Linked DNA regions of Homo sapiens. The protein of the gene in region 2 purifies or fractionates together with the protein of the main gene of each other region. This does not show direct contact. Each region holds a gene or a part of one and is shown on either strand. Other genes may lie near its edges.

Evidence for each region.
Region 1: the proteins of ZNF354C (region 2) and SORL1 purify together in Homo sapiens (affinity purification with mass spectrometry; 2 studies listed by BioGRID and IntAct, with this or other methods). This does not show direct contact.
Region 3: the proteins of ZNF354C (region 2) and ASS1 purify together in Homo sapiens (affinity purification with mass spectrometry; 2 studies listed by BioGRID and IntAct, with this or other methods). This does not show direct contact.
Region 4: the proteins of ZNF354C (region 2) and LRP4 purify together in Homo sapiens (affinity purification with mass spectrometry; 2 studies listed by BioGRID and IntAct, with this or other methods). This does not show direct contact.

The regions. Positions count from the first base shown.
Region 1 is NC_000011.10:121,630,309-121,634,291, reverse strand, and holds the end of SORL1 (sortilin-related receptor preproprotein), read right to left. Parts: 3' UTR 529-3,983; downstream 1-528. UniProt on the Homo sapiens protein: Sorting receptor that directs several proteins to their correct location within the cell. Along with AP-1 complex, involved Golgi apparatus - endosome sorting.
Region 2 is NC_000005.10:179,055,622-179,063,389, forward strand, and holds the start of ZNF354C (zinc finger protein 354C), read left to right. Parts: upstream 1-4,751; 5' UTR 4,752-5,045; exon of another isoform or gene 5,046-5,469; intron 5,470-6,393; 5' UTR 6,394-6,447; coding exon 6,448-6,474; intron 6,475-7,768. UniProt on the Homo sapiens protein: Transcriptional repressor that inhibits endothelial angiogenic sprouting. Suppresses osteogenic effects of RUNX2 and may be involved in osteoblastic differentiation.
Region 3 is NC_000009.12:130,454,956-130,461,988, reverse strand, and holds part of ASS1 (argininosuccinate synthase), read right to left. Parts: intron 3,589-7,033; coding exon 3,400-3,588; intron 1-3,399. UniProt on the Homo sapiens protein: One of the enzymes of the urea cycle, the metabolic pathway transforming neurotoxic amonia produced by protein catabolism into inocuous urea in the liver of ureotelic animals.
Region 4 is NC_000011.10:46,873,530-46,880,562, forward strand, and holds part of LRP4 (low-density lipoprotein receptor-related protein 4 precursor), read right to left. Parts: intron 5,787-7,033; coding exon 5,597-5,786; intron 5,510-5,596; coding exon 5,378-5,509; intron 3,811-5,377; coding exon 3,670-3,810; intron 3,302-3,669; coding exon 3,215-3,301; intron 3,109-3,214; coding exon 2,937-3,108; intron 2,438-2,936; coding exon 2,275-2,437; intron 2,153-2,274; coding exon 1,927-2,152; intron 1,575-1,926; coding exon 1,271-1,574; intron 888-1,270; exon of another isoform or gene 65-887; coding exon 1-64. UniProt on the Homo sapiens protein: Mediates SOST-dependent inhibition of bone formation. Functions as a specific facilitator of SOST-mediated inhibition of Wnt signaling.

The DNA.
Region 1 (3,983 bases), on a different chromosome or scaffold from region 2:
AAAACCAGATGATAATACTTCAGGGTTTGGCTCTGGCTCAGTGTCTAAACAAAAGCAGCATACCAGAAGACCTGTTAAATTCTTAAAAACCTGCCTCCCTCCCCCACCCAGTTCCACAGCCTCCAATCCTGACTTACAGGCCCATGGCCATTCAGCTGCCCATAATAGGTACACGCAGCACTCCTCACAAGACTGTCTATGGAAACCCATAGAAGTGCTCTTAGACACACAGCTCATCTATACTGCTGTGCTTCCGTCTCTTAGATTTGAAAATTGCCTTCTTAGCAAACTGTCTCTTAGCAAATGTAGTTACAAATTTAAGGGAGCCACTTTAGTCATTGTCCCTACGGAATAATTCTGTTTACTTCAAAACAGCCAGCACATCTTCCCCCTCCTCAACCAACACAAAGACATCGTGTTCTTCAAGGATCCACCATCTGAGACCAGCTTGTTAATAACAAAATTATTCCAGGCCTTGGTGTTCTCTCATCTATGAAATAAACATCCGTTTAAAACAGACCAATCAAATGGGGTTTGGAGACTGCGTCAGCCATCTTTATTGCGCTCTAAAGAACAGCTCGAGACACACAGAGACAGTGGATTTTCAAAGAGGTGTTTTCTTGACCCAGTTAAATTTTTATTCAGTGAAAAAAGTTGACATTGAGACAAAAATTATCTTAAAGTTGTGCAACAATACAGTAAAACCTTCAGCAGATTTCAGTGACTTGGAAACTTATCGAGGCAATTGAAATTATAAATACTTAATTTCGCTTTGGAGAGAAACAAGTATACAGTGTTTCACTTTAAATAAGAGTAGAATAGGCCTTTATTTTGCCGCAAATACTTTTGATTTTGCCTAAAGTTTCTAATAGTTCATAACAAGAGTCTTTAAATGAGAAGTGACATAGAATATTTGAGGATAATGGTCCACTCCAGCATTCATGCTTATTCCATTTGAGCTATTACACATGAAACTCATACCATTCTTGGGTTATTACTTGGCTGTGACGATTTAATTCATAATATGGCTGCTCAAAATTAGTGGGCAGAAACATACATACAACCCATCCTCCCTCAACCCATTTTCGGTGCTGGTACTCCATCTGAAAACACACTTACTGTCCATGTACCCAGCAGTACATATCTCTTCCTATCTATTCCATATCTCAGTCTTGCATAGAAAGTAGTCTATATAAACTTAATGCACTGGCTTTTATTACACAAAAATTGTACCTGAAAGGCAGCACACACTCCAGTTAAGAAAAATAACACAACAGGAATGTCAAGATACAATCCCAACACAAGATTCTGCACAGAGTTTTAGAGTCAATTCCTAAAATCAATATGGGATGATATTCAGTTTAGTTATGTCTCTGGATGCCTTCTCTAAGGGACTCATCCAACTGTCTGCAGAAGGAAGAAAATTTTCAGGAATTCCCCATGACTCCCTTCATGAAGAAGGGACTGACCAAACCTGATAGGATGGTGTTTCTGCCCTAAGGAAGTGTACTGGAAATATAATCTTACTAGATGCAGTGACCACTTGGTAAGCATCTGAAGGCAGCATTCGCCAAGAAGGAGTAGGCGCTCATCTCTAAGGGGCTCACCATACTATTGCTCTCCCAAGCTTCCCCTGAAAATGGCCAGTTCTGAGAAGGGTTACATTCCCTAAATTGCTGAGTACAGCTTCATCTAGTGGGCCAAACATGATGGGCAGGAGAGAACAGGCAGCTGTGTGTCTTCTGTCTGTCCCACCCAAATATCCCTGGTGATGCTACCAAAGACAGAACCCCAGGAATTACTTGTCCAAAAGTCAGAGTTTCAACCAGTTACCCAGAATGATAACTATTTACCCAGCTTGTCAAGGTAGCCAGTAGTTCCTGGAGCTTCTCACCTGTCTGGAACTAGGACTGCACAGACATGGCCTCTTCCTGGAATCCTCTGTAGAACTCCACTCTCTAACATTTTATCCATGTGGACTCGTATCTCATAAAGCTCAAGGGGCATTCAATACATCCAGGAGTAAAATCGGTTTCCAGAGAAAACTCATAAGCAAACCCCCTGCCCACCAATTTTTAGAGGCCCATCGTGGTCCACATGGATGCAAGCATCTGACATTCTAATGTATGCCAGGAGAGAATAAAACCTTTTTCCTGCACAGTGTGAACTTCTGAGGTGGCATCTCCAACAAGGTACAAAAGCCCCTTCTTCACAAGCAAGCAGGGACTCCGATTGGTCACAGTGAAGACAGTTATGTGGTCACCTTCAGAGGCTGCCTGTAGTACAAGGCATTTGTTTTCATTTTCTATTGGCACTCCAACCTCTGGATTCTTTCAGACAGCATATATACATGAAATCCCCACAAAGCTACACAGAGGGAAACAGGAGTGTGTGCTTCAAAAGTTCATAAAAATATACAATTTACATATAGCTGCAGCTATCTAGCTTAGTCTTCAGGAACTTAGCTCTTCTGTTTATATAAAATACTCTAGCCCTAAAAGGCTGCTTTTTTTCAAACAGCACAGTGGCATTTTCCAAGGAGAGGGGTGATGGCCAGTCTACAGTACTGTGCACTAAGCATTGGGAGGCACTGGTAGCTAGAACCGGATGCTCGGAAATATCTCAAGCTGCCAACTGGAGACATATGCTCTGTAAAAAGGCTTGCCTATGGAATAACTGAAAATAACATCTCAGAGCCTTTTATATCAGCTTTTACAAATGCCACCAAAAAGTTGGCAGAAAAAGAAAAGAAAATACACTTCCTAGTGGTTCAATTAAATGACTTGCCTCCCACCAGGTTGTTAATGATTCAACTATTTAAAGAGCTTATTAAAGGGGAGGTGGTAGGGCTTAGAGTTTTGAACAAATCTCTACGGTAAGACAAGATAAAGCCAAAAAAAATTCCAGTCTTTAAAAAAAAAAACTTAGGAAAGTGACAGGAAAGAAGAGAAAATACGCTAGAAGAAGGCTTATCATTACCACCAGTTGTTAACATGAAATACAGTCCTACCCGTATGGCAAACTAAAGGTCGACAGCTTAAAATACTCATCTAAGTATACATATAAATAAAAATTTCAAAAACTAAAAAATTTAATTGGCTCTTTCTTTGTTTTCTAAACAATCCCTAAGTAGAATGAAACTATATTATCACCCAAGAATGATACTTGTGGTTAAAAGAAACTAAACACTTGTGAGAAGGTGATGCCTCGCACCTAAGCGGGGATGGGGTTTTACAAAGCTTGCACGTCAAGGACACATATTCAGAGACATGACTTTGGAATATTCCCAGACCTCACTGCTTCTTGGCTGAAAGGAAATTCTTCAGTGAGAATCATACAGCACAAGTCACAACGATGCTCGACATTGGTGCCCACAACACTAAGCCTAAATAAAGGGCTTGCATCAGCCCACGATGGATTCTACATAAGTATCAAGTGGCCATGGTTTGAATACACGGGTGGCATTTTAAAGGCAGAAGAAAAAAAGCACAGCTTGTTTTACAGAGAGAATAAATGAACAAACTCTAGTGCTCCTGCTGTTGTTAACTGGATTGAGTAGTCTCAACTTTTTAGATCTTCTCTATCTCTATGAGAATGTACAGCACTGTCTCTTTAGATTGGGTGGGGGCATGGGTGAGGGAGATGGAAGAAGAGGAGAAAAAAAAAGAGAAGGCACTGTCCAATTCAAAATGACTGCATATATCAGTATGGATTTTTAAGGACAATAAGTGGCCATCTCAAACCAAATACATAATTTTACATCTGAGATCCTTCAGTAGTAAGTAAAAACAAAAAATGGAAAATGGAAAAATTATGTACTCTATTAGCCAGTGTATGGATCATGGCACAGATCTAGAACTCTCCCCCACAACCAGGGTAAGTTTTTGCAATGACAATGAAACCAGTGTGTAATAAAGCAGTGTTATCATTTTGTAGCTCTCAAAGCTACATCTTGTACAGAGGCACATACAGTAAAATTCCAT
Region 2 (7,768 bases):
GGTGGTTTCAGAGCCATCGGGGCAAGGGAATTCTTGCTCAGCTGGCTTTACAGCATTCTTGCTAACACAGCAAAGGTGGGGGATGAGAAACTCTGTCAGATAGTAAGAATGATCAGATGTCAAGAGTTGGGGGATTCTTGCTAAACTGACTTATCAAGACTCTTTGCAAAGACTGGGCTGGGCAGGACAGAATGAGGGCCAAGGTCAATGCCTAGTGAAAACGAGGGCTCAGAACGGCCTGACTAAAGTTTGGTCAAGGAGGTAGTCTTATCACTCTCCGCTACTCAGCGCATTCTCGTCTCGTTCAGAGTGAAATCCACTGACACAGAACCCATTAAGAACCTCCACGTTCTGCCCCCTTGCCTAGGATCTCCTACTGTTCTCTCCCTTTTCTTTCTGCTTCAGCAACAGTGTCCTTATTGTTCCTTCAACAAGCCAGGCATGCTCCCACCTCAGGGTATTCGAATCCGCTTTTCATTCTGCCAGAAAGACTTCCCACAGATACTTAAATTGGCCCATCCCTCATCTTCTGCAGGTCTTTCTTCAAATGTCACCCTCTCAATGAAATGTTTCTTAACCACTTTGTGTAAAATTGCAAACTCTCCCACCCTCCATGTTCCTGTTCCCTTTTTAAATTCTTGTTTGCACTTACAGGGAAGTTTAAATTTTTCCCCTGAAGTTTCGATAATTTGAGTCTATAAAACAAAATGATACATAGCTGAATAGGAAAAAAAGGCATACAAATTTTATTAAAGTTCATACAAGCACAGGAGTGATACAACATACAAAAACTCAAAGAAAGGCAAGGTAGTTGATATTTTTATACCATCTTGAAGTTACAGGAAGAACAGGGGCTTGGATCACGGCTAAGGCGGGTTATAGGAGGGAGAGAAGAGGAAAGACCTGAAGAAAAGGTAGACTCATTATGCAAATGAAGCTGCACAGGTAGCAGCCTAAGAGCAAATGGTAGCCCGTGGTTAAAGTTTGCACCAGATTTTCAAAGGTGTCAGACTCTCAGTTAGTCTTTCTCAGATCTGGACGAGGGGAGAGCCTCAGAGAAAGCCTATTCACATCTGTTGTTGACTGCACTTCATTTCCTCAACAGATGCAAGTCTCCTCTACAAAAGACAGCTTTTCAGGACTATTCCTGTCTGCAAGCTCTCTGAATAGCCATCTCAAGATATGTCAGGGAAGTATGTTTTGGAGTGAATTATTTTGGTTGCCTTCACACTCATCTCTATCTCAAAACGTATTTATTCCTCTTATTATCTTTCCTCTCTCTCTTCCAGTAAAATTCAAGCTGCATTTGTGCACAGGTTTTGCCAGTTTTGCCCACTGGTGTATTTCCAGAATCTGGCACAATGCTAGGCACAGGATAAGTGTTCAACATAATTTTTGTTGTTGCTGAATGAATCAATAATGAAATCCTATACAGTAATGAAAAGGAATGAACTTTGCATGTATCAAGGTAGACTAATCTAAAAGTGTTTGTGTTGAACACATATATACACATGATACATATATGCATGTATATACACATGATATATATACATATATACACATATAGGCATATACACATATATATGCAGAAATCTTTATATAAAGGGTATCTGCTATATACATACATATTGTATATTGTATAAAAGTTGAATACAATGTACAATTGAAACTATACAATTGTATATTGTATGTATATAGCAGATTACCTTTATATACATACATATTGTATATTGTATGTATATAGCAGGTTGTCTTTTTATAAAGATTTAAAATGTTGCAAAAGTAAACAATGTTTAGGGACACATGCATGTGGAGTAATTATCAAACAAAACAAAGGAATGCTGAAAGCAACTCAGGAAAATGACTTGGGAGCACTGTGAACAAGGCTTCCAAATTTTGGGTAAATTTCTCTTTGGTAACCCAAGTGTTGGGTATGTGGGTATTTGTTTTATTATTATTAAACCATGGGCCTCGCACAGTGGCTCATGCCTCTAATCCCAGCACTTTGGGAGGCTGAGGTGGGCAGATCACGAGGTCAAGAGATCAAGACCATCCTGATCAACATGGTGAAACCCCATCTCTACTAAAAATACAAAAATTAGCTGGGCATGGTGGTACGTGCCTGTAGTCCCAGCTACTCAGGAGGCTGAGGCAGGAGACTGCTTGAACCTAGGAGGTAGAGGTTGCAGTGAGCCAAGGTCGCGCCACTGTACTCCAGCCTGGCGACAGAGTGAGACTCCATCTCAAAATAAATAAATAAATAAATAAATAAAAACAAAAATCTGTGCCTATGAATACATTATCTCCTGTGTATGGTACACATTAAAAGAATTTAAAATAACATAACTATCTTGTGGTTTTGATTTGCATTTCTCTGATGATTAGTAATGTTGAACATTTTTCATATACCTGTTGGCCATTTGAATGTCTTTTTGAGAAATGTCTATTCAGGTCCTTTGCCTATTTTTTTTTTTTTTTTTTTTTTTGAGGCAGGGTCTCACTCTGTCACCCTGGCTGGAGTGCAGTGGTGCTATTTTTGCTCACTGCAGCCTCAACCTCTGGGTTCAAGCAATCCTCTGCGCTCAGCCTCCTGAGTAGCTGGGACTACAGGCCTGCACTGGCATGCCTGGCTAATTTCGTTTATTTTTTGTAAAGACAAGGTCTCACTATGTTGCTGAGGCTGCTCTGGAACCCCTGGGCACGAGTGATCCATCCACTTCCGCCTCCCAAAGTGCCGGGATTACAGGCATGAGTCATTGTGCCCAGCCCTTTGCCCATTTTTAATGGGACTCTTTGTATACTGTTGTGGTTTTTTTTGTTTTGTTTTTTCTTTGAGATGGCATCTCGCTCTGTCACCCAGGCTGGAGTGCAGTGGCATGATCTGAGCTCACTGCAACCTCCACCTCCCAGGTTCAAGGAATTCTCCTGCTTCAGCCTCCCAAGTAGCTGGGGTTTCAGGCATGCACCACCACGCCTGGCTATTTTTGCATTTTTAGTAGAGACGGGGTTTCGCCACATTGGCCTGGCTGGTCACAAACCTGTTATTTGAATTCTTTGTATATACTGGGTATTAGTCCTTTGTTGGATGAGTAATTTATAAATATTTTCTCTCAAGTTGTTGCTTCACTCTGTTGTTTCTTTTGCTGTGCAGACACTTTTTAGATTAATATAGTTGTTTATTTTTCTTTTTGTTGCCTGTGCTTTTGAGGTCTTAGCCACAGACCTCAAAAGCACAGGCAAGAAAAAGAAAAATCTTTGCCTAGATCAATGTCCTGAAGAGTTGTCCCGATGTTTCCTTCTATCAGTTTTATAGTTTGGAGTCTTTAAATCTTTAATCTATCTGGAGTTGACTTTTATATATGTTGAGAGAGAAGGGGTCCAAGTTCATTCTTCTGCATATTATTATCCAGTTTTCCCCAGAACCATTTATTAAAGACGTAGTCCTTTCCTCATTGTGTGTTCTTGGCACCTTTGTTGAAAATCAGTTGGCTGTAAATGGGTGCACTGATTTCTGGGTTCTCTTATTCTGTTCCATGGGGGGGTGTGTGTGTCTATTTTTATACAAATATCATGCTCTTTTGGTTACTAACACTTTCTAATTAGATATAAGCTCACTCCAGTTAGAATGATTATTATTATAAAGACAAAAAAATGACAGATGCCAGTGAGGATTTGGGGAAAAGGGAACTCTTATACACTATTGGTGGGAATGTAAATTAGTACAGCCACTATGGAAAACAGTGTGGAGGTTTCTCAAAAAACTAAAAATGGAACTACCATACAATCCAGCAACCCTACTACTGGTAAAGGGAGAGAAATCAGTATATGAAAAGGATACCTGCACTCACGTTTGTCACTGCACTATTTGCAGTAGCCAAGATATAGACTCAACCTACCAGCAATAGATGAATGGGTAAAGAAAATGTCATACATAGACACAATGGAATACTATTCTGCCATAAAAATGAATGAAATAATGTATTCACAGCAACATGGATGGAGCCGAAGGTCATTATGTTAAGTGAAATAAGCCAGGCACAGAAAGACAAGTACTGCATGTTCTCACTTATATTCGGGAGTTAAAACACTTGATCTCATGGACATAGACAACAGGAGGATAGATACCAAAGGCCAGGAAGGCCAGAAAGGAAGGGGAATGAAGAGAGGTTGGTTATGGGTACAAACATACAGTTAGATGGAAGAAATAATTTCTAATATTTAATAGCAGACTAGGGTGACTATACTTGGCAATAATATTGTGTATATTTCAAAGTAAATCGAAGAGAGGGCTTGAAATGATACCAACGCATAAAAATGATAAATGCTTAAGGTGATGGATACCCCAAATACTGTGACTTGATGATCATTACAGTCTATGCACGTAACAAGCACTCACATGGACCCTATACATTATGTAAATTATTTTGTATCAACAGAAAAGTAATCACAACCAGCGGTGGGAGCTACAGCACACTGATCCTCCTAAATGAATCTAATTTCCGGTTTTGTTTTTTCAAACTACTCCGCTTGCTTAACAAGTGCGCGGGCTGTAGGCAGCACGGCCAGCAGCTGGAGACCTCCTGCCTCGTGTGCGGCGTGCGTACTCCCTCGCACTGCAGCCCCTCCGCGCACTGTCGCCTTTGAGAGCTCTCGTTGGCGGAGGCGGTTCCTCTCCCGGAGTTCGCAGCGCGCACCGCGGCGTCCCCTGGGAAGTGTAGTCGGCGTGGGGCCGGAGGCATGCCGGGAGTGGTAGTTCTCCCGCGGTTGGCGGGGTTTCGGGGACAGCTCGCGGCCTTTCGGGGGTTCTCCTGGCTTGGGCCATCCAGGCTTGGCTAGGATTGCCGGCCTGGGGTTGAGGCGCTCGCAGTGGTCTCTTCCGGGCCGGGGTGGATCCGGGCCTCTCCAGCGAGTGGGCGGCGTGCAGCCTCGTCTGGGCTTCTGGGACCAGCCCTACGCGGCTCGGGCCCCTTGGCCACTGGGTCCCGGGGCGCCGTCCGCGAGCGGCCTGGACTGCCGGAGACCCGCGGGAGGGAGCGCCTCGCCAGGTGAGCTGGGTGCGCCGGGCCGCTGGGGTGGGGATGCCAGCCTTTTGTCGTTGTTCATTCTGCGATTTTCTTCTGTGCATTTTCTTCTGAGTAACGGAAATAATAAAAGCAATAGCTGATGCCCGCCGAGAGCGCTCGGGTGCCAGGCACCAGACTAGCGCATCGCCCGAACGAACTCCGCGCATCCCTGCTAACAGATAGGGTGGCGGTACGCTGTTCCCGCTCTGTCAGGAGGAGACCGAGGCAGAGTGGCGAGGTCATTGCCCCAGATGTAACTGGGGCCTGGGGCTAGGATCAGGATTGCCTTCCCGGCCCTTATGACTTTGGGCAGGTCACGACCTCCTGGTTTTCAGTCTCCGTAACATCTGTAAATGTGAAGATTGAAAATACTGCGTGGAAAACACTCACCGCTTCCTGGGAGGAGGTGCGCTTCGTCGCGTAACCGAGGCCTTGTGTGGCAGCTTCCCCTGGGCTGGTCGAGGCACCCGCTGGAACTGGCCTGGCAGAGCCCCAGGTTGGCTCCATGCTAGGGGGCACCCTGAGTCGCCGCTGCAGATCGCGGGCCTGGAGGCCCTCACACTTGCCCGGCTGCCCCAGGCAGCCTCTTCCCTTGCTTTCTGTGGGGCGGGCACGGTTTCCACCTCTCCCACCTGGGGTTGGTGTTTGGGCAGCGACGGCTGTTTCTGGTTGTGGGTGCCATTAGAGGCGGCACCTGTGGAGTATTAGGAGGGACAGCAAAGCTCTGGCTTTGGGTGGGGACAGTGCCTTAATCCTGTTACCTTGGGTAAAGTGTGGTAAGGCCCGACGAAGATCTAGTAAAGAGGCTGGGAAAGCTGAGTGGTTGGATTATGCTCACAGTTTCTTGGGGAGAACACAGCACTCCACGGAAGGACCACTCAGGGCGAGCAGTGGGGTCTGTCACCAGGGTAGGGATGCGGGGAAGCCTCTTTATCGTGGCTACCATAGGGAGGAAAGGGTGAGGCAGGGCAGGCAGGATGAGGATCAGCTAGCTAGGCTGGGAAGTGGCGCCCCAGGAGACTGGATATTCATTGCGACTTTTAGGTGTGCAGTTCAAAGCTAGCGAAGGACTCCAGACATCCATGGGGGAGTCACGGTTTGCCTAGAGGTAGCTGAGAGGCCCGAAGGTGGAAGTTAAAGAGTCCAAGTGCAGAAATAGAAGTAGGGTTGGCACATTGCCCTAGTAAACTAGTAAACACTCTTCTTGCTTTACATCATTACGGGGGGTGGCTTTTTTGAGACCTGATGGACATTATGGGCGGTTGTAACTTCCTCTCTCCAAGCCATCTCCTGACGCCAGGGTTCCTCTTGACACCTTTTTCCTCTGCAGACCCACCGTGTCCACACTCTGCTCTCCCTGGGCAGGAAGACTGAGGAGGAAGGGATGGCTGTGGATCTGCTGTCTGCTCAGGTGAGAGTGAGTGAAGGTTGTCTTTTTCATCAGTTGGCTTCTGGATTCAGAGATGGTAGACATGTTTCCAGACTTTGTCCAGGTACTTTTTGGTCCAACCAAAACGATGAAGAATCCGGAACCTCAAAAGTTTTTCCCAGTGTCTTGGGCTTAGCAAGGGGCTGCTGAGGAATGTGCCTCTTTTGTCCCGAGACTACTCTTAATTCACCCCGCTCACTCTGTGATCCACATTTGAGGCAGTTCTGAGCATATGCTTCCCACTACACTGGTGCTGGGTGGGGAGAATGGGGCATGAAGCAGTCTCTGTCTTCATAGAGGATATAGTCACACTTGGGGCTAAGATGTGGAAGGGCCGGAAGACAGCCTCCACAAGCATTTATTGAGCCCTATGTACAGGATCCTGTGCAGCACACGGGATGGAAAGAGGAAAGCTGTCATTTCCATCTTCTGGGAGTTCGTGGTATCGATCTTAGGAAACATGATTAAATGTTCAGGGGAAATATCCCAGAAGTGGGGGCATTCTGAGTTTATACTGGAGGCCAGGACTGATATTGGTGCTTAGAGAAGACTAAGGGCATCCCAGAAGGAGTTCAGCGTGGTTTGGGCTTTGAAGCCCAGAAGGAGGCAGGCCTGGGGCCTTCCCCTCCCAGTGCAGCGGGGATGTTAAGCTGTCCAAATGTCCATCTCACCTGTCTGATTGATTCCTCTATTTCCTTCTCTGATTCTTTTCTTTTTTCTCTGCTAGTTTAGCCTCTCTACCTGGGCTCTTTTTTCTTGTTCTTTCCCCATTTAAGATCCATTTTCATTACTTTAACCCTCAGCGTTCTGAGTATCTTCCCCAAATCTGTCCTCAGGCCTGACCTTTTTCCTAGCATTCCTGTCTGTCATTCCGACGTGGAAGTCCCATCTTTCCTTCAACACCAGCTCCCTTTCCTCTAGTCCCCTCCCTTCTGTGCATTTTTTCTGCCATACTCCAAAGCCTATTCTTCATTGACTCCTTTTCCAATAGCCCATAGGCTGGAAATGTGGACTCAGGAGCTTGACTTCATGGCTTCAAATCCAAGCTAGGGATGTAGCCCTGAGCAAGTTATTTTATCTCTCTGTACCCCATTTCCTCAATTTTGGTGGGGTTAATAATATACATACATGACTGAGTTGCTATGAGCATTAGTAACAGTAGTAGCTGGGCACAGTAGCTCACGCCTATAATCCCAGCACTTTTGGGAGGCCAAGACAGAAGGATTGCTTGAGCCCAGAAGTTTGAGACCAACCTGAGCAACATAGTGAGGCCTTG
Region 3 (7,033 bases), on a different chromosome or scaffold from region 2:
TCAGGGCTGGGCTCAGGCGGTTCCAGCAAACAGGATGCCCTTCCCCCTCACATCCCAGGCCAATCCGTTGTCCCCCCAACATTTCACTGTCACCTTCCCTGAGCCCAAAGACCCGAAAGCCTCCACCTGGCCCGTCCCCCGTGATGGCGCCCGGGGCAGTGCTGGGTGGATACTCATGGGATGGTGGTGCTGGGTGGTTACTCAGGGGGTAAATGCCTGAAGGCTGGACCAGCACCTCCAAGGCCTTGGATTCCCCTCGCTCCCAGCCTTCCTGGTTCTCCACTCATACCCCCAGTTCTCGGAAATTGTCTCCAGAGGCTGTTGGGGGTTTCCTGGGTACTGTCATAAAGGGACACTGAGGCGCAGAAGTACGCCTTGCCTGTCAACCCCAGGAAAGAGGTGGCTGTGCCAGGTAGCACCTACTCCCCGGCATCCCCGGAGTCCGTCCCTGTTGGGTCTTCTGAGTGTGAATGCAGGGACGCCCCCAAGTCCCGAGCGGCCATAGCACTAGCTTGGGGGGCGTTCTCCTCAGAACCACGCCCTGCAGGTCCAGGATGGGGAACAGAGGACCCCGGTGGTGCCGCCACCTCCTCCCGCCTTTGTCGGCCCCCAAGGCCTCAAACCCAAGCCTCTGGCGCCCTCTGGTGGCCACATGGAGGAGGGGCGCACACGGCTGCGGGAGGCTGTTGCAGGCTAAATGTGGGCTGGTCCGGGGTGGGGGTCTCCGCATGGACCCGGGAACTGCCTGAGCCAGAGCCGACCCACCCATACTCACCCACCCACCCATGCACTCCACCAGACCTGAATGCCGCCCTACTGAACCTTAATGGTACCGTTGGAAAGACCTGAGGGCAGGACCCCTCCCAGAATTCTGATCCCCTGCCCTCGGCTTGTATGCCTTCTGGGATAGGAAGCTCACGATCCAGCTCTTTCCATTAAGGCAGATGGGTCGGGAGCTTTTTTTTTTGTTTGGGACAGAGTCTCGCTGTGTCGCCCAGTCCTGATCCTCTGGGTTCTCCTCCTCTGCCACCACCTTTGCACAGATGGCAGCATACACACGGTCCTGCCCAACAGCTCAGGCCCGCCCAAACCTCCTTGCCTGGTTTCCTACCATCCCATCATCCACAGCTGGAGTGACAGTAAAAACCAAGGCCGCAGTCTGTGAGAAGCTCTCCCCTGTCTCTTCCCCAGCATCTCGCTGGGGTAGTCACTGGCCACCTCCATCCAACCTGAGACCTCCTTCCACCCACTAATCAGTTGCCCTCAGGATGAAGCCAAACCTCCCAGCATGGCCTCAGCCCAGTCCTGGCCCTATTGCCTCCCCCACAGCAATAGCTCCTGCTCCACAGCCCCAGACAGACTGTCCTTCAGGGCCTCTTGGCTCTAAGCCTTTCCACAGGCTGTTCCCTCTGCCTCTCACACTCTTCCATGCCATTATTCACTCCTCTAGACTCATCCTCAGCCCCTGCCTGCTGCTCCCGCAGTTCCCTGGCACAGACCCCTGGCCCCACTCCCATTCCTCATCACACATCCATTTTCTCTTCTCTTGCCAGGAAATGGGCTCTCTGAAGGTACGCAATGAGCCCAAGAAGTTAGCACTGTGCCAATGCCAGCAAGCACCCAACTCCCAGCAGATACCCAGTGCAAGCTTGCTGAACCAGTGCTCCGGTGAAGAAATGAACACTTGGACTTTCAAAGACATGACAGGTGCCATCCTGGTGGGTGGCTGTCTCCCAGGCCACCCTCAAATCAACCGCGTCTCCTCCATCATCATCTTAGCTGTGTGTGTCCCTGCACCACAGTGAGCCAGGACCTCCCACAGTGAGCCAGGACTTCCCACCATCAGCACCCTGACCAGCCCGGGCAGGCGAGGTAGTGAGCTCCCCGTCACTGGGGAGTTTCCGAGCCTTCTGACTGTGGGGTTGGTAAACAGTCAATTCCTGTACCAGGCTCTTGGCATGCTGTCCGCTGACTGAGAGCTCATGACTTGGGTCTTTATAAAAACATCGGCTGACAGTTGCCAACATTGTCAGGAATCTGGTTTCTCAAGGACTGCCTTCCGAAGAGCAGCAGGCAGGGGGCTTCCTGTCTTGCACCCCACGGGGACCCCGCAGTCTGCACTGGGACACACGGCCCGGAGGGAAGGGGTACGGGATGGGTTGATTTGTGTTTCCACAAAATAATGGGTTCAAGTCCTAACCCCAGTCCCTCCGAATGTGGCCTCATGTGGTCTTAACAGAAATAACCAAGTTAAGGCTGGGCATGGTGGCCCACGCCTGTAATCCCAGTGCTTTGGGAGGCCAAGGCTGGTGGATCATTTGAGGTCAGGAGTTCAAGACCAGCCTGCCCAACATGGCGAAACCCCGTCTCTACTAAAAATACAAAAAATTAGCCGGGTGTGGTGGGGTACACACCTGTAATCCCAGCTACTCAGGAGGCTGAGGCAGGAGAATTGCTTCAATCTGGGAGGCAGAGGTTGCAGTGAGCCAAGATCGAGCCACTGCACTCCAGCCTGGGCGTCAGAGTGAGACTTTGTCCCTCTCCCCCACACACACACACAAAAAGTAACCAAGTTAAGATGAGGTCATTGAAGGGCCCTAATCCAAGACGGGTTCCTGTAGCAAGGGGAAGGTAAACAGACAAGCAGAGGGAAGACAATGCAGAGATACAGGAAGAAGACAGCTTGGGAAGATGGAGGACGGAAGGACAGGAGTGACGCAGCCACACGCTAAGGGACACCAGAGGCCACTGGAAGCTGGAGAGAGGCCTGAGCCGGAGGCTTCCTGGCACCTTCAGAGGCTGCGTGGCCCTGCCCATGCCCTCACTATGGACCTCAGGCCTCCAGAACCATGAGGCAGAACAGTTCTGTGTTCTAAGCCACCAGTTTGAGACATTTTGTTACCCTCGCCCTGGGAAACTAAGACATGGCATGAGCCCCATCTTGCAAATGAAGAAACTGAGGTTCAGGAAGGGGAGAAGGGCCCTGGCTGAGGACACACGGCAAGCCAGCAGCAGAGCTGCCTTTGAACCCTACTCTGCCAACTCAGGGTTTTCAACACTTTCCTGCGTGTCCCCTGGGGGACTCACGCAGTGACCTTGGCCAATGCGACCTTGGACAATGTCCCCAGGCCTCAGCAGCAAGTCTGCCAAATGGGGTGACATCGCTCCCACAGCAGAAGGTGGAGGTGAGGACTCAGAATGGGCGTTCAGGTGCCACAGTGCACAGAGCGCAGGGGCGAGCTGTTACCCCTCTCATTGGGGTCTAAACAAAGCCATGTAGCTGCCTTGCACCAAGTCTGCCCCGGAGGCACACCAGGAAACCGCTCGAGGGGTGCTCATCTCCTTCCCACACCCCTCCGCCTCCATCTCCCTCTGCCCGGCCCTTCCCAGGTGCCTCACCTTTCCTGTGGCGCCGTGGGACACATACTTGGCCCCCTCCCGCTGGGCGATTTCCACTTGTTTGCGGGCGATGCAGGGCCTGGCAAGAGAGGTGCCCAGGAGGTAGCGGTCCTCATACAGTGCGCTGGACTGGATGGCCGGCCAGATGAACTCCTCCACAAACTCCCTGCTGACATCCTCAATGAACACCTACGGGAAGAGGAGCCCAGAAGGAAGAAGTAGGCAAGGACAGGGGCCATCTGGCATACAGAGCCCCAGGGGCCTCAGCTAGCTGAGACCTATACGGGGCCACCCCCGCTGTACCTGGTGCTTCTTCTTCTGCATCTGTAGTAGACATCATTCATCAATCCCAGCACACTGCACTGTTACTCTCCCTCCTGCACTCATGGCAGACATTGCTAATCAATAGCTCTCTTTTTTTTTTTTTTTTTGAGTCGAAGTCTTGCTCTGTTGCCCAGGTTGGAGTGCAGTGGCTCAGTCTCAACTCACTGCAACCTCCGTCTCCCAGGTTCAAGCAACTCCCCTGCCTCAGCCTCTTGAGTAGCTGGGATTACAGGCGCATGCCACCATGGCTTGCTAATTTTTGTATTTTTGGTAGAGACGGGGTTTCACCATGTTGGCCAGGTTGGTCTTGAACCCCTGACCTCAGGTGATCCAGCTGCCTCGGCCTCCCAAAGTGCTGGGATTACAGGCACAAGCCACCGCGGCCAGCCTGCTAATCAATCCTGATGCACCGTTCTGTGAAACTGGATGTGGCTTCTAAATCAGCCCCAACAAGATGAAACTTAGTTGTCACCTAAGATCTCACAGCAGTAGTTCCCAACCAGAGACGGTTTTGTCCCTGTTGGGGGTGGGAGTAGGGGAGGCATTTGGAAGTATCTGGAGATATTTTTGGTTGCCACAACTACCAGGTGGGGGGTGGAATTCTGGCATCTAGTGGGTAAAGGCTATGGGGATACTGCTAAAATCCTCCCGTGCACAGGACGGCCAGCCACACGGGAACAAGGCCAAGACTGAGAAACCCCGATCCAGAGGAATGGTTCTTGAAATGTAGACCCCCAGGGGTTCCCAATGACTTTTCAGGGAGACACTGAGTGAAAACTTTTTTTTTGTTTTTTTGAGACAGGGTCTTTCTCTGTCATCCAGACTGGAGTGCAGTGGTGTGATCCTAGCTCACTGCAGCCTCAACCTCCTGGGTTCAAGCAATCCTCCCACCTCAGCCTCTTGAGTAGCTGGGACTACGGGCATGTGCTACCACGCCCGGCTAAGTTTTTTATTTTTTGTAGAGATGGGATCTCACTGTGTTGCCCAGTTTTCTTCATAAACTTCAATAAAACAAGGCATCACATAGCGAGGAAGCCCTGGGAGGCTAAAAAAGAAAAACAAACAAACAAACGAAAAAACAAGTGAATGCAGAAAACCGCTACAAGAGTCCATCTGTTTTCTGTCAAGCCAGACATTACAGAGATTTGCAAAAATGGAAGCCAATAAGATTCTTAACTAAAATTTTTTGTTTGAGAAAATAGTTATTTTTCATAAGTGTAATGTTACTTATGTTAACATGAACTGTTCATTTAAAACATTTCAGCTTTTATTTCTAATGTGATAAATATCAACAGATGTAATCCACAAAAGCTCTCTAAGGCCTTCAGTAATTTTTATTTTTTTGAGATGGACTCTCTGTCATCCAGACTGGAGTGCAGAGGTGCAATCTTGGCTCACTGTAACCTCTGCCTTCCGGGTTCAAGTGATTCTCCTGCCTCAGCCTCCCGAGTGGCTGGGACTACAGGCATGTGGGGTTTCTCTACTAAAGAAACTAGGCTGGTTGGCCAGGCTGGTCTCAAACTCCTGACCTCAAGAGATCTGCCCACTTCAGCCTCCCAAAGTGCTAGGATTACAAGCGTGAGCCACCGCACCCAGCCAAGGCCTTCAATAATTTTTAAGAGTCGAGAAATTCTTGGTACTGCTTTTGCAACTTCCTGTGTCTATAATTATTTTGAAAAAAATCCTTTTAAAAAATGAAATAAAAAGGCATAGAAAAGAAAGCAATTGGGACTAAGGATATATAAAAAACATTAGGATAAATGTGTTTTTGTGTTTGTTTGGTTGGTTGGTTGGTTTTTTTTACAGAGTTTTGCTGTTGTTGCCCAGGATGGAGTGCAATGGTGTGATTTCAGCTTACTGCAACCTCCGCCTCCTGGGTTCAAGCGACTCTCCTGCCTCAGCCTCCCGAGCATCTGGGATTACAGGCACCCACCATCGCGCCCAGCTAATTTTTGTATTTTTAGTAGAGACAGGGTTTCACCATGTTGGCCAGGCTGGTCTTGAACTCCTGACCTCAGGTGATCTGCCTGCCTCAGCCTGCCAAAGTGCTGGGATTACAGGCGTGAGCCACTGTGCCTGGCCCATCCTAATGTTATATGCAAGAAAATAAACATTAAAAACGCCACGTAAATTAGAGTGTAGAGGATTCCCAAGACCACAAGTTTTGAGAACTGCTCATCTAGAATAAAGGACAAAAGCTGAAGCCGTGCACAAAGCCTGCTCCTGCGCTGCTGAAAGCGCACTCGAATCTTCAACACTCAGGGCTCTTTCTCCCCTTCCTGGACTACTGCTCAGACAACCCCTCTGCTCTCCAGCACTCGGGAGGCACAGAACCAAGGAGGGACATTCTAGTTCCAGGCCTGTGGCCAGTAGGTGACTTGGGACTGGGGCATCCACTCCCTCCCGTGTTCATTTTAACATGCTAATTACCCTGGCAACCCTGCAGAAGCACCCCACAGAGGGGATCAGCTCTGACCCTGCAGGTGGGCTGGTGGCCTTGCACATCATCCCTGCTATGTCCCCTGCTCACTCTCCCAAATGAAGGGGCACAAGTGGCAAGGGCTTCTCCATGGGGAGTGAGCACATGTGAGCAGGGGTCCTGATGACACTGTTCATCATAAATGCCCTGTATGGGACAGGGGTCTGCCTGCCACATGCCTAGATTCACAATCAAGGCACCAGACTCAATTGGAGTTCTCTGATTCTGTTGAATGAATGGAAGAATGGGTAGACAGAGAGATAAAAGAGGGAAGGACAGGTAGGGGGATGATGGACAGAAGGATGGATGATGGATGACAGATGGATGGATGGATGAATGGATGGATAGAAAAACGGTGAATGGATGAAGGATGGATGGATGGATGGGGGATGGATAGATGAATGGCTGGCTGTCTGGATGAATGGATGGATAGACAGTGGAGGGATTAATGACAGATGGATATGTGGATGGATGGATGGATAATGAAGGGATGGATGGGTGAATGGATAATGGGATGGATGGATAGATGATGGATGGATGAATGGATGGATGAATAGACGGATGGATGATGGATGGATGCATGGGTAGATGATGGATGGATGAATGGATGATGCATGGAAGGATGAAGAATGATGGATGGATGGATGGATGATGGATGAATAAATGGATGATGGATGGATAGACGGATGATGGCTGGATGAATGGATGATGGGTGAATGGATGGATGGATGGATGATGGATGAATGGATGGATGATGGATGGATGGATGATGGGTGAATGGATGGATGGATGATGGATGAATGGACGGAGGATGGATGGATAGATGGATAG
Region 4 (7,033 bases), on a different chromosome or scaffold from region 2:
GTCAGTGGTCTTCAGCCCTCGCCCGATCACTGTCTCCATGTTGCTGCCGTTCAGGTCTGCTCGCCTTGGGGAGAGCCCAGTGTTGGATGAGCAACCAGACTGACCCAGAATAGAGTAGAACTTTAACCCATGTTCCCATAACTGGACCCCACTGAACTGTAAGCTCCACAGGGATAGAGACCAGGTATCTATGAGTACATTCCTCAGCACCCAGCATGATAGATGTTCAATAAAATAATTGCAGAATGAAGGAACCAGTTCTTAGGAGGACACAGTATTTCCTGCTAACTGGACATAGTGGCGGTTGCCAGGGGATGTCTTGCTAGAAGACAAGTTTATCATTCCCCACATACCTTTGGGAAGAGACAAGGATTGCTAGGTGGTGATGATAAGAAACGCAGATTTGTCAAAACCAACCTGTGCATTTTTTAAAAGTTAAAAACAATTTTAAATACAAGTAGATATGAGGTTTCATTATGTTGCCTAGGCTGGTCTTGAACTCCTGGGCTCAAGCAATCTTCCCGCCTTGGCCTCCCAAAGTGCTGGGATTATAGGCGCGAGCTACCACGCCAGACCCTAATTGTGCACTTTTGCAAAGGCCCTATGGGCAGGAGGGAACTCTACCTCAGAATGGGGAGCATGTCACTGTCACCTAGGGGACTTCCCTAAACTGTATATGCCTACCTGTCCCCAGTTTGAGATTCTAATACATCCCTTGGGGAGAGCAAAGGGGAATGTTCCCTGTTCCTCCATGTGAGAATATCTGCCATGGTAAACCACTCTTACTGGTGGCAGGACATCATATTCCTAAGCTGTGTTAGGGCCACAAATTTAAAGACTAAAAATAAAACAACGAAAAAATAAAAAACAACAGCTTTGTAAACCACCATAAGACTTGGCATTTGATTGGGGCTCCTTTACTGCAATACAGATACTGGTTATATGGCCTACTCATCAGTAAGTCCTAGGGGATTCTTGGAGCTCCCTCAGGGCACAATGGTAGATGTGAAAGTCTCCAGGTCCCCTGACTTTACCTGTTTTTTTTGTTGTTGTTGTTTGTTTTACATACTAGGCTTCCATATAATCTCTAAACAAATGAAAGTTTGAAACTCTGCTGTAAGTGACAACACTACAAAGTGAACAAGTCAGGATTAAAACTCACTATCCAAAGTGCCAAATCACTCATCCATTTAGTGGTCAGAACACAACCTCACCCATGGGCGACCAGAAGCAAATCTGTGTCTTCTGGAGGTTTCAGTGTTGCTCATACCTGATAACATCCAGGAACACATCTGTGTAATAGACCTTTCCATCCACGCTGTCATAGTCCAGGGAGATGACATTGTTGAGCTCAGGAACAGGGACATGCACATCGGTGTGGTCACTGGTGTCCAGTGAGATACGCCGGATGGAGCCACGGCTGGAGAAGAGCAGGTAGGTCTCAGGAGAGGGATCACAGGTCTTCCCATCTCCCTTCAGCTGGATGCCAGTGGGGCAGGCACAGGAGAAGCCAGAAGGCCGAGGCAAGCAGAGGTGGGAGCAGCCGCCATTTCTCGAGCCGCACTTGTTAAAACCTGGTGATGAGAAGCACAAGTATTCACACCTAGCCTGGAACATCATCTGAATCTTACAAAGGTCCCAGTTGTTTGTGGCTGGCTCTTTGCTGTTCTAAGTGACAGGATTCAGTGCCTGGCAGGGTGAGGTAGAAGGAGGGTCTGCAGGAGGATCTCCAGGAGTCCTTTGAAGGTGACAGCTGTAGTACCAGCCATACCCAGAGAGAACACAGCCCAATCTGGAAGGGAGCTTAAACAGGTCACCGTCTTTCTGGCTGTAAAGGAGCTCTGTGCTCTGGATATATCTCTGATGTTGAGATGGCCCCAGAAAGCCAGAGGCTCTGACTCACAGCCCCAGCCCTCTGACTCTCACCTAGTGGCTGTGCCCGGTCCACAGCCTGCATGTCCATGAGGCCTGGCAGGTTGGACCTCACGAGGATGACATTGCTGCCAGTACCCTTGTCAGCACGGTGGATGCTCCGAGTCTGCCAGTCAGTCCAGTAGATATAGGAGTCGAGCAGGGTGAGGCCATATGGGTGCTGCACCGGTGACACCAATGTATGCCGATTGGCACCATTCAGGTCAGCAGCCTCAATTCGCTGCAGAGGAAGGAGAGGGTGGGGGGTGGTGATCAGCAGATTGGGAACTCTCCATGGAGATCCTAGGCAGGCCTTTCCCATCTTCCCAGGCTCCTGGGAAGCAGCAGGGACACGGCTCTCACCTCGGTGTGGGCATCGGCCCATAGCAGTTGGGAGCTGGCCTTGTCCACAGTCAGTCCATTGGGCCATCCTAGGTTGTTGTTGATGAGCACCGCGCGGTCTGAGCCATCCATTCCGGACCGCTCTAACTTGGCATTCTCCCCCCAGTCTGTCCAGTACATAAACCTGAGTGAGGAAGAATATTAGCTATATTAGCTAGTTATTCCAGCAGCTACCACATACCATGAATACTTAACAGTATGTCAGATACACTTGAGTACTTACAGTATGTCAGGCAAAATTTTTGCTTGACAAAGTACTTTGCAAAATACTTCATGTGCATTATCTCAACCTTCATAAGGGCCACAAGGTATGTATTTTCACTACCACCTCCATTTAATAGGTAAGGAAGCTGAGAATTAGAGAGGTTAAATACCGGACCCAAGTGATATAGCTAATACATGATGAAAACATTTCAATCCTGGTATTCTGATTCAAGGCTCATGCTTTTAACTTCTACACTGTACTGTCACCCTGCGAGAAGTCACAAGAGAGTGGAAGAGCCCCAGGGAGGTCACCTTGTTTCTGTGATGCAAGCTTCCTCTCCACTACCCACCTTTACCCCGTCATAACCCCAGCTGAGCTGGCCCCCCACACTACCCAGTGCGATACAGCCAGCTCTCACCCCATCTCATGGTACAGTACGATGGCCCGGGGACTGTCAAGGTTCTGCCACACCAACACTTTCCGCATGGACCCGTCCAGGTTGCCCACTTCAATCCGGTTTGTTCCCGTGTCTGTCCAGTATACTTTCCGGCCAATGGCATCAACCGCGAGCCCATCTGTGGTCTGTAGCCCTGTGGGAAGTCAAAAGAGCACACTGGCTCCTATTTTAAAACAGATGGGCTATTTCCCCAGCCCTGTTGCCAGACAGGTGGTCCCTGGGCTAGGAGGAAGGCCCACCTGTGGTGATGATGTCCTCATGCTGTGAGCCATCCAGATTGGCACGACTGATCCTGTGCAGTGTGCTGTCAGACCAGTACACCTTTCCTGGAGAGGGAAAGCTTGGCTCAACCTAGACCCTCACCGCCTACAATGGGACACACACAGCTGATTCATGTCTTGAAACACCAGAGCATGTCAGAGAGCTCTGGAGCCTCTAGCAGAGGAAATCAAGGAAAACGCAGAAATATCATAGCAGGATAGCTCTTGGCAGAGACGGAGAGAAGAGGGCCCCAAACCATGCTCTCACAACCAAAGAGAGAGTGCTAGAGAGACAGGGACAGGGGCTATGCCAGAGGGAATGGGGAACAAACACCCTGGCTCTTGGCAGGAGACAAAGGTGGTGGGAGAGGAAAGACAGTAATTGTTGAAGGGCAGGGACAGAAGGCCAGGTGGGAAGAGAGGGCCATACAGACCTTCCTGGGGGTCTACTCCAATGGCAATGGTGTTCTTCATGGTAATGTTGATTGGTACCACCACATCAGCAAAATAAGGGATGTCCAGGGAGACCATGCGAATGTCTATCCTCCTGGCGAAGATGAGGAAACTGTTCATGCCTGCCAGGTGGAGAGGAGGGAAGAGGATCACTCGAGCACAGCCATTAAATGGATTTGGAATCAGGCAAACTGAAACTCATGCCCTGTCCCTGCTAGTTTCTAGCTATGTTATTCTAGGCAAGTTATTTAAATTATTATTATTTTTTGAGACAGGGTCTTGCTGTGTCGCCCAGGCTGGAGTGCACTGGCATGATCATGGCTTACTGCAGCCTTGACCTCCTGAGCTCAAGCGATCCTCCCACCTCAGCCCCCTGAGTAGCTGGGACTACAGGCACACACCACCATGCCCAGCTAATTTTTGTATTTTTTTGTAGAGATGGGGTTTCGTCATATTGCCCAGGCTGGTCTGAAACTCCTGGGCTCAAGCCTCTGCCCACCTCAGCCTCCTAAAGTGCTGGGATTACAGGCATGAGCCACTACTCTCAGCTTAAATTATTAGGCCTCAGTTTTCTTATCTATAAAATGGGGACAATAATGGGGTGGCTGTAAGGGTTAAAAGATCATGTACATAAAGCACTTACCATTAGGTCTCACACATATTCATAAATAATGCCTCTTTATTAATATTATGAAAGTGGCTCTCTTTGAAGGACCCTTTACCATGAAGATTAAGAAAGAGAAAAAAAGAAAGGGAATAAAGGGACCCCAGGGGGCTTTACTCACAACCTGAGAGGCACAGTTCACAGCTCCTTTCTCACTCAAATTCCCAGGGAGGTTAGAGTTCAAATGCAGCCTACCCTGCAGCATCTCCTAGGGAGAAGCCTTGACTTCCGACATCTGGGTAGCCAGGTACTGCTTCTGGGACCCTCCAATAAGGTTGTCACATAGGTTGTGCACTCACAAAAGTGGCACATCTAAGGAGGAGGGTACTGTGACATTGTAGATATCATACATTTCTGTTTTTATTATACCAATTTTGGGCAGTTAGAAGTGTCTTTTTTTTTTTTTTTTTTTTTTTGAGACAGAGTCTCACTCTGTCACCCAGGCTGGAGTGCAGTGGCGTGATCTCTGCTCACTGCAACCTTCACCTCCCAGGTTCAAGCAATTCTTCTGCCTTAGCCTCCCAAGTAGCTGGGATTACGCGCCACCATGCCTGGCTAATTTTTGTATTTTCAGTAGAGACGAGGTTTCACCATGTTGGCCAGGTTGGTCTTGAACTCCTGACCTCTAGTGATTTGCCTGCCTTGGCCTCCCAAAGTGCTAGGATTACAGGCATGAGCCACCGTGCCCAGCCAGAAGTGTCTTATTCCAACCAAATCAGTATATTATGACAATGTACTAAGAGATGAGAGGAAAGTGTCTTGAGAAAGGAGCATCTTTATCTAATATGCATGAAGACATCATAAGAACTAGTTGGACCCTGCCTCCAGTCCTTTCTACTTGCTCCCCAGGGCCTCTCCCCAGGCCCGTCCCCTTTTCTAAAAGCCGTGAGTCTCTCCCCTGGGCCTCTAGAAGCAGCAGGACTCATGGTTTCTCAGACCACATTGGAGCCCATCTGCAAGGAAGGAAGAGAGCCATTGCCCCCTCCCAGAGAGGCTGCATCTAGATCTGTGATGCTTTCACTCACCTGGTGAGCAGGTCTTGCCATCAGACAGCAGGTTGATGCCTGTGGGGCAGGTACAGCTGAATCCGCTTGGATTTGGGGACCTAAGACACAGGTGGCTACAGCCGCCATTCTCCATAGCACATGGTGTAGACACTGGGTAGAGAGGAGGGGATGTTCAATGGGGAGAGCTAGGGCATAGGAGGGCCACGGAGAAGCCAATGCGAGCCAAGGGCTGCTCACCTGGGGGCCGGCGGCGGTGGAAGACATGGATGTCCATTAGGTTTTCCAGGTTCTCCTGCAGAGTCTCCCGGTCCAGCCCTGTCAGCCGGTCAGCGCTCTGTATGCTCTTGGTCTGCCAGTCAGTCCAATAGATGCGCTCTCCATAGAGGGTCAGCCCAAATGGGTGGGGGAGCTGGCTTCCAATCAGCACCTGCCAGGGCCCCAACACTGTGTCATCTTCAACAAAGTCTGACAGTACAGAGCAGTGGCAAAGAGCTCACTGTGGACTCAGAAAGCAGCTCTCCCACTAACACCTACTGGGTGACCTCCAGTAAGAGCTACTTATAAAATCTCTCTGAGCCTTGCTCTATCAATCTGTGACTTGATCATGCCTGGCTCTAAGGGTCGTGTGATGGTTTTATTGGAAGATGTTGGAAGTCATCTATTACTCACATCATCTCAAAGTATCTCTGGACAAATTACTTATTAAGTACAAAATTAAAAAATAGCAACTTTACAGTGGACACTACCTTAACCATACAATGGCAGTAAGTATCACAATAACGGAACAGGCCAACACCTGTGTCTACTGATGAGACACACTGAGAACTCAAGGACATGACTTCACTTAGTGTAGTATTCCTGCTGCAAATGCACACTCTGAATCCAATCACAAGGAAACATTAGATAAATCCAAGTTGAGAGACATTATAAAAAATAACTGGCCTTTACTCTTTAAAAATGCAAATGTCCACTTTGGGAGGTCCAGGTGGGCAGATCACCTGAGGTCAGGAGTTCGAGACTAGCCTGGCCAACATGGCGAAACCCTGTCTCTACTAAAAATACAAAAATTAGCTGGGCGTGGTAGCGGGTGCCTATAATCCCAGCTACTTGGGAGGCTGAGGCAGGAGAATTGCTTGAACCCGGGAGACAGAGATTGCAGTGAGCTGAGATCGCACCATTGCACGCCAGTCTGGGCGACAGAGCAAGACTCTTGTCTCAAAACAAAACAAACAAACAAAAAATGCAAATGTCAATAAAGTCACAGAAAAGCTGAGGAAATGTTCCAGATTAGAGAGTAAAGAGACTAGATTAGTTGGGCCCGGTGGCGCACAGCTCCAGCTACTCAGGAGCCTCAGATGGGAGGATCACCTGAGCCCAGGTCAGCATGGGCAACACACCAAGACTGCAGTCTCAAAAAAAAAAAAAAAAAAAGCTATGTGTGGTGGCTCATGCCTATAAACCCAACACTTTGGGAGGTCAAAGCAGGAGGATTGCTTGAGCCTAGGAGTTCAAGACTAGCCTAGACAACAAAGTGAGACCCCCATCTCTACAAAAAATAAAAAAATCAGCCGAGTGGCCTCAAACCCGTAGGCTCCTGAGTAGCTAGGGTGCAGTAGTAGGTGCCTGTGGTCCCAGCTACGTGGGAGGATCCCTTGGGCCAGGAGGTCGCAGTTA